Homo sapiens: one gene and its partner. The protein of the gene in region 2 interacts with the protein of the main gene of each other region in a biochemical or structural test. Each region holds a gene or a part of one and is shown on either strand. Other genes may lie near its edges.

Evidence for each region. The genes of interacting proteins can lie anywhere in the genome.
Region 1: the proteins of PPP1R12A (region 2) and CHEK2 form a complex in vitro, tested with the Homo sapiens proteins (one study listed by BioGRID).

What each region holds. Positions count from the first base shown.
Region 1 is NC_000022.11:28,735,221-28,738,820, forward strand, and holds part of CHEK2 (serine/threonine-protein kinase Chk2), read right to left. Parts: exon of another isoform or gene 2,064-3,600; coding exon of another isoform or gene 2,040-2,063; intron 1-2,039. UniProt on the Homo sapiens protein: Serine/threonine-protein kinase which is required for checkpoint-mediated cell cycle arrest, activation of DNA repair and apoptosis in response to the presence of DNA double-strand breaks.
Region 2 is NC_000012.12:79,774,300-79,778,271, reverse strand, and holds part of PPP1R12A (protein phosphatase 1 regulatory subunit 12A), read left to right. Parts: intron 1-2,256; coding exon 2,257-2,343; 3' UTR 2,344-3,972. UniProt on the Homo sapiens protein: Key regulator of protein phosphatase 1C (PPP1C). Mediates binding to myosin. As part of the PPP1C complex, involved in dephosphorylation of PLK1. Capable of inhibiting HIF1AN-dependent suppression of HIF1A activity.

The sequences.
Region 1 (3,600 bases), on a different chromosome or scaffold from region 2:
ATAGTGAAACTCCGTCTCTACTAAAAATACAAAAAATTAGCCAGGCGTGGTGGCGGGCACCTGTATTCTCAGCTACTCGGGAGGCTGAGGCAGGAGAATCGCTTGAGCCCGGGAGGCAGAGGTTGCAGTGAACCAAGATTGCACCACTGCACTCCAGCCTGGGCAACAGTGCAAGACTCCGTTTCAAAAAAAAAAACTCATATATACAGTCCTCAATTTAACAATGCTTCTATTTAACAATGTTTAGACTTTCTGTGAAAGCAATCAGTAGACACTTACTTCTCCAAGTCCTCACATAACCATTCTGGTTTTCACCTTCAGTACAGTATTCAAGTAATTACATGAGATATTTAACACCTTATTATAAAATAGGCCAGGTGGCCAGGTGCAGTGGCTCACACCTATAATCCCAGAACTCTGGGGGGTCAAGGCAGGTAGATCACCTGAGATCAGGAGTTCAAGACCAGCCTGGCCAACACAGTCAAACCCCGTGTCCACTAAAAATACAAAAATTAGCCGGGTGTGGTGGCAGGCGCCTGTAGTTCCAGCTACTCAGGAGGCTGAAGCAGGAGAATTGCTCGAGCCCAGGAGGCAGAGGTTGCACTGAGCTGAGATCGCGCCACTGCACTCCAGCCTGGGTGACAGGAGTGAAACCCTGTCTCAAAAAAATTAATTAATTAAATAAATAAAATTTTAAAATAAAATAAAATAGGCCAGGTGCAGTGACTCACAACTGTAAACCCAATATTTCGGGTGGTGGAGGTAGGAGGATTGCTTGAGGGCAGGTGTTTGAGACCCCACCTCTACAAAAAATAATAACAATAATCTTTGTGTTAGATAATTTTGCCCAACTGTACCCTGACATAAGTGTTCTGAGCATGTTTAAAGGAGGCTAGGCTAAACTATGACGTTTGGTATCTTAGGTGTATTAAATGTAATTTCAATTTAACAATATTTTCAACTTAGAATGGTTTTATTTAGACATAATGCCATTGAAAGTTGAGGAGCATCTGTGTACTTTGGAAAGCAAAAGAAGACAAAAAATCAGGTGGCTTGATATAAAAGTCAAAAAGAAATTGTACAATAACCTGCTGCATTACTCCAAAGGGTCCATTTACATAAAATGTCACTGGTACCCCTTTTCCCCCAGGCTTGCTCCTAAAGTGAAACACACCTGTTCGTTCAATCTATATTCCCTGACACCTAAGGACCCAGTGACTTAATGAGGCAGAACACAAAGGAAGACAGCTCTTAACAACTCCACCTATCCCTTTGTGATGCTAAATAACCATAGGGCTTATCTTTTCAGCATCCTAAATGGCCTTCCGGCCTTGATGTAATCTTGCAGGAACCATTCTTTTATAAACTGGAGACCGTAACAGAGGCTTCCACCCTTGTCTTAGAATTAACCTGATAGACAGTTAGACTGTCATAACAGGCTGGGTGCAGTGGCTCATACCTGTAATCCCAGCACTTTGGGAGGCCAAGGCAAGAGGACCACTTGAGGCCACGAGTTCAATACCAGCCTGGCCAACATAGTGGGACCCCCCCCGCCCCCCGTACAAAAAATAAGAAAATTAGACATGATGGCATGCAGCTGTGGGCTCAGCTACTCAGGAAGGTGAGGTGGGAGGATCACTTGAGCCCAGGAGTTGAAGGCTGCAGTGAGCTATGATCATACCACTTACATACCAGCCTGGGTGGCAGAGTGAGACCCTATCTCCAAAGAACAGAAAACAAACCAAGACTCTGATAACAGAACCACCAGTAAAATCAAAGTAACATCCACTGCTGACCTAATCGGATTAACAAAAAAAAGGGAGGGAGAGGAGGGCATTCTCTTCCTCCCCAAACTCAGGCTACTACTCTAGGAGAACATAGGAAACAACACTATAGTAGTCCCCACCATCAGAGGGGGATAAGATCCAAGACCCCCCAGTGGATGCCTGAAACCTCGCATAGTACAGAACCCTATATAAATTATGCACAACTTTCTTTTTCCTTCTTCACAATTTCACAAATAGAAGATTAGTTCTTACCATAGACGTTAGCAGCCTCAGCATACAAATTTTTTTATTTCCATATTAAATTGAGATCTTTCACCTTTTCAGTAAAAGGAAACACTTTACAGCTTCTCTTTACAATATCCAAATTGCCAGCATCTTTTGCTTTGGGGCCATTATTAAATATAAGGGTGACATGAACACAAGCACTGCAAAACCATGTAATTTAAGACTTATGAACTGATTATTTCTTTTTTTTTTTTTTTTTGAAACGGAGTCTCAGTCACCCAGGCTGGAGTGCAGTGGCACAATTTTGGCTCATTGCAACCTCCACCTCCTGGGTTCAAGCAATTCTCCTGCTTCAGCCTTCCAAGTAGTTGGGATTACAGGCGCACACCACCATGCCCGGCTAATTTGTATATTTTTTTTAGTAGAGACAGGGTTTTCACCGTATTGGCCAGCCTGGTCTCAAACTGCAGACCTCAGGTGATCCTCAGGTCCACCTCAGCCTCCCAAACTGCTAGGATTACAGGCCTGAGCCACCATGCCCAGCCATGAATTGACTATTTCTTATGAATTTTCCACTTAATAGTTTCAGATCGCAGCTGACCATTGGTAAGTGAAACTACTACCGCTGATAAGGAGGGACTAAGATACCCACACTGATTGTATTTACACAGCTTTCAAGATACAAAGGTTCTGCCAGGTGTGGTGGTTCATGTCTGTAATCCCAGCACTTTGGGAGGCCAACGCAGGTAGATTGCTTGAGCCCAGGAATTCAAGACCAGCCTGGGCACCATGGTGAAATCCAGTATCTACAGAAAATACAAAAAATTAGCAGGGCATGGTGGTGTGCACCTGTAGTCCCAGCTACTTGGGAAGCTGAGGTGGGAGGATCACTTGAGTCCAGGAGGTTGAGGCTGCAGTGAGCCGTGATCGAGCCTGCACTCCAGCCTGGGTGACAGAGCGAGACCCTGTCTCAAGGAAAATAAAAAAGATACAAAGGTTCTGATGAGTTTTCTTTAAAACATACCAGGAAGGCAATGCCAAAACTGAGTATGCCACACCAGGGACTGCTGGTCTAATACTACCTGAGCCAGGCTGAGTCTTCCCCACAGCTTTTTAAGCAAGACAGGACAACTGGAGAAAATGTGTCAACAAGTTACTATGAGAGATTAGAGGCAAGCGGATCTGGAGTCAGACACTTGAGTGAAACTGTGCATGACTTTAGGTAGATCACAACTTCTCTAAACCTGTTTTCTCATCTGAAAATAAGTAGACAGACCATGAGGATTAAGTGAAGTGACGCATGTAATACTCCCCCCACCCACCCATGCTTGCTATCTGGGAGCTATTGCTATTGGAAAGCCATGCAGAGAAGTGAGTGAAAAACCAAAGTGAGGGCAGCAAAACTCCAGGACTGTAGACAGAAATCCAGTCCCAAAACCTATAAAACTACTAGAAGAAAACACTGGGGAAGTGCTCCAGGACACTCATCTTGGGCACAGGTTTTTTGGGCACAGGGTTTTTACGTAAGACCTCAAAAGCACAGGCAACTAAAGCAAAAACAGACAACTGGGATTTCATCAAGCTAAAA
Region 2 (3,972 bases):
TGTTCAGGTATAGAAAAAGTTAGACAATAATAATAAGATGTAGGATTTATTATTTATTCTTTATGTTTCTATATACTTTCATGTTTTTTGGCGAGTAAGTAGTGGAGGGGGTTACTATAAAATGTTCTCCTTTGAAAGTAAAGGACATTAGGGGAGTGAACAGGCAGAGCTGTATTTTATCAAACTCCATATTACCTATAGAAATAATTATGTTTTGAATGTCTTCACAAGTAGCATAGTTAATTGATTACCTCTTACCACACTGTCCTTCATAAAATCTTTATCACATTGTGAATTAATGAACCAGTGCATAGTAAGTATATTGTACCCACAGAATTAGAAGTTCAAGATTTAGATATTTCATTATTAAATTGTTTGGTTTGTTATTAGACCATTATTGAATGGCTTTGAAGATTGGAGACAAATCTTTTGTATTTTGTTTGCTTATGTATTACTTAGTTTGAAATAGAATTTTAGGAATACAGTGTTTACCTTTCTGAATCTCTTGTTCCTTTAAGACGTAATATTTTTAAAAAATTACCTGTGATTACATTCTTATTATACTCTTTTCCATTTTCTTATTTTTTATTCCTATTTCTTTATGTTCTGATTCCTGCAGAACCTGCACCAAATAAAGCAAATTCAATCTCTGAGGGAGTTAAATGAGCGACTGCTGACTGAGAATAGGGCCTTGACAAGAGTGGTAGCCAAGCGCTCAGGGTTCTATAGGCAACTGCAGTCTGTGAACCTATAATTTTTAGTTTCATCATTTCTTCTTGGTAGAGCCAGGCAGGTGTTTTTATATTAGTAGGCGTGTTTTGTAAGAGCTCACTTTTACAAATTAATGCCATTGTGTCTGGAGCATATCATATAACTAATTATGCATGGCTTCTTAGAATGTTAGAAATTGTCACTAATTGTATATTGCAATTGATGAGCTACATTAAAATTAGGGATGATTTTGGAATTTAAGTTAAAGACTTATCTGTACTTTTGTAAAGCTTTTGCACATTTTTTAGCTATACAGATATTTTAGGACTTAAAATATGACTATTATTTACAGTTCTTTACTAGAGAGAAAACCAACAGTATATAACATTTTACATATAATTAATATATTTTGAAGCTGAAGATTAAGCATGCATTATGTTTTTCAAAATAATGTCATTTGAAGTCAGAACCACATTAGTTTATATTTAAGTTTATATTACAAATATTCAAATGAATAAACTTAATATTACTATATTTTATATCTTAAAGATTCTGAACACAGATAAGAACATATTGGTTCCACGTAAAATTAAATCTTCTTAAAGATTTTGCTTTACCTAGTTTTGCAAATAGAAGTTTTACTTTTATCAAGTTAGATAAACTAATACATTTTGAAAACTGAGGAAAGAGGACTATTTTGGAAAGTATGGTTTAGGGACCAAAAATATGAGCTATTTCATTTCCTAGTGAAACTGGCAAAGAACATACAGTTTTAATCATCCTTAGTAGAGTATTCAGTTAACTTGTAATATTTTCACCCCTTCATCAATTTGTCTGTAAAACAACAGAAAATTGAGATGTGTTGTTTGAAGATATGAGGCTATTTGCTTCAAAATTGGTTATTTTTGTAATAGTTGGATCATAGATACAGACTTTCTACTTTAGCTTAAACATGATGCACTATTCTAATAATAGTAATTGCTTGTTACCATTTAATAAGCATCTATCTGGGATCGGACATTGTTTAGGCATTTTAAACTGAGCTACTGTAGGTGAATCGTTTAAGGAATTTTAATAATTTAGAACAAGTCTAATTTCCTCAATGTTTTCCTAGGTAGTTTGACTTTCTTGTGGAACAATATTAAGTATTATGATTTTAGGTCTGACATACATAAAAGCAAAAGTCTTTGGTTTAGGTGCTGACAGGAACCTCTTTTAAGAGCCTATCCTAACAAAAACAGGCTTGTCTTGGCTGCTGGAATGTGGTGTGCTTGTGAGTCATAAAATCAAGTGATTTAGTAAATTTCAATGGAAAATTTGGAGAGAATAAACCTTTCATTCCAGCATTTATGAAACTAATTAGCTTTACAAATCCAGGTGTGGTTTTTTTCCTTCTTCCTGATACATGTTTTAGATACTAGAAATATATATAACTGACAAAGCTTGATCATGTGTTTTGTGGTGAAAATATAACATTTATTAAGAATAATGTTTTATCTTTTAATATTGAAGGTAAAACTTGATCTTCAATTTTTCTCTTTATAGATGTTACCAGACCTAAAAGCAGACAACCAGAGGCTAAAGGATGAAAATGGGGCCTTGATCAGAGTTATAAGCAAACTTTCCAAATAAAAAAAAAAAAAGCAGCAAGTAATGGAATTGCACATATTAGTAACCCAGTGGACCATAATTGGCAGTCACTGGAAGTCTGGGAAGAATCCTTGGAGACTGTCATTTTCGGATATCCTGCCAAATGCCCTCTTATCTAGAATTTTTGTTTCATTTTGTTTAATTTTCTGGGGTGTTTTTGTTGTTGTTGGTTTGTTTTTTGTTTTTTTTTTTTAATCAAGACCATTGTTTCATGTTAATGCAGCTGCTGAGAAGATTTTTTTTTAATGACTGAGAAAACTTGTTTACAGCTCCAGCATATAAGGAAAGTGTTCAAGGCCAGATATGCCTCAGATATTTAACCAGTAAGCCTTAGTTGTACATAAATACTTTTGTGTCAACAAAAACTTTCAGCTCTCACAGAAGACAGTTACTCAACATTTTTTGATGTGCCACAGTTTCGAGTTTTTCGATATTTAAATTTTTTGGCTTTTCATCTAAGTTTGGGTTTGTATTTTTTCCTTCTAAACTCTTCATGTGGCAGAGTCTTCTATGTTTTCACAGCTTTTTCATTACAGAAAAGAACACTTGCTCTTCTGTGATTATTGTCATGTATTAGGCTAATGCTGTGTTGTCTCCCACCTGGAACTGAATTGCTTGGTGGAACATATGCTTTCACTGTTTGTGCAATATGCATTTATTTCTTATATGAATGCTTTAAAGTCATTTGAGGTTAGATCTTTTAATTCCTATTTTCTGCTTCATTGGTCACTTTTTTTTTATTGTAGTATAAGATGTTAGATTCTGTAATCTTCACATTCATTTTAGCAGGTACTGAGTGATGCTGTATATACAAATAAGTGTATTGTTTTGATTTTTAGACCACCACATGGCATGCTTGACTATTTCTTATTTCAAATGTCTGCTAATGCAGAGTAGGCTACTCCATGATAGTGTTAAAAAACAAAATTTGCTAACAATGTGATATAAAGACTTTAAAAGTTACACATTATGTGGAGCCCTATCTTTACAAAAGTTTCCTACTGTAAAGTGCTTTTATTTTCAGTTTTCACTTGATAGTACTCAACCATAATTAAAGTTGCATAAGATAATTGCTTTACATTTCACATACCTATATTTATCTGAGTGCTGTCTAAAACTGTTGTGCTAGCCAAAGTAATGCTATGAAATCATTTGCAGAATTAACCCGTGAGTTAATGTTAAATGCACTGTTATTGCCATGTGAAGAGGCATCGACTTTGATACCACCATCATGTTCAGACCATTTTATACATTTCAGTGGCCTTTTTTTTTTTTTAAGGAAAAAAAAGCGCAAAACCAAGTACATAGTGACGATGGCTTTTATTTGGACAAATAGCTTTTATATTTTCATTAAACCATGCAAAAAATACTACATCTTTCTGGCACATAACTGTCTCCTTAACCACTGAACAGTTCAGCCATTTGAATAAATTGTACATTGTAAAGCTTATAGTAGCTGATTGTATTATTGATTGTATTGTATACTATATTAAATGTGAATTTGTACCCCTTCATTTTAAAAGGTCATTGTGTTCTACTGCCTATTTTAGATTACTTTGGGGTTGGGGAAGGGTGTTTTGGTAAGCAGGATTTTAAGTCCTCTCTCTCTCG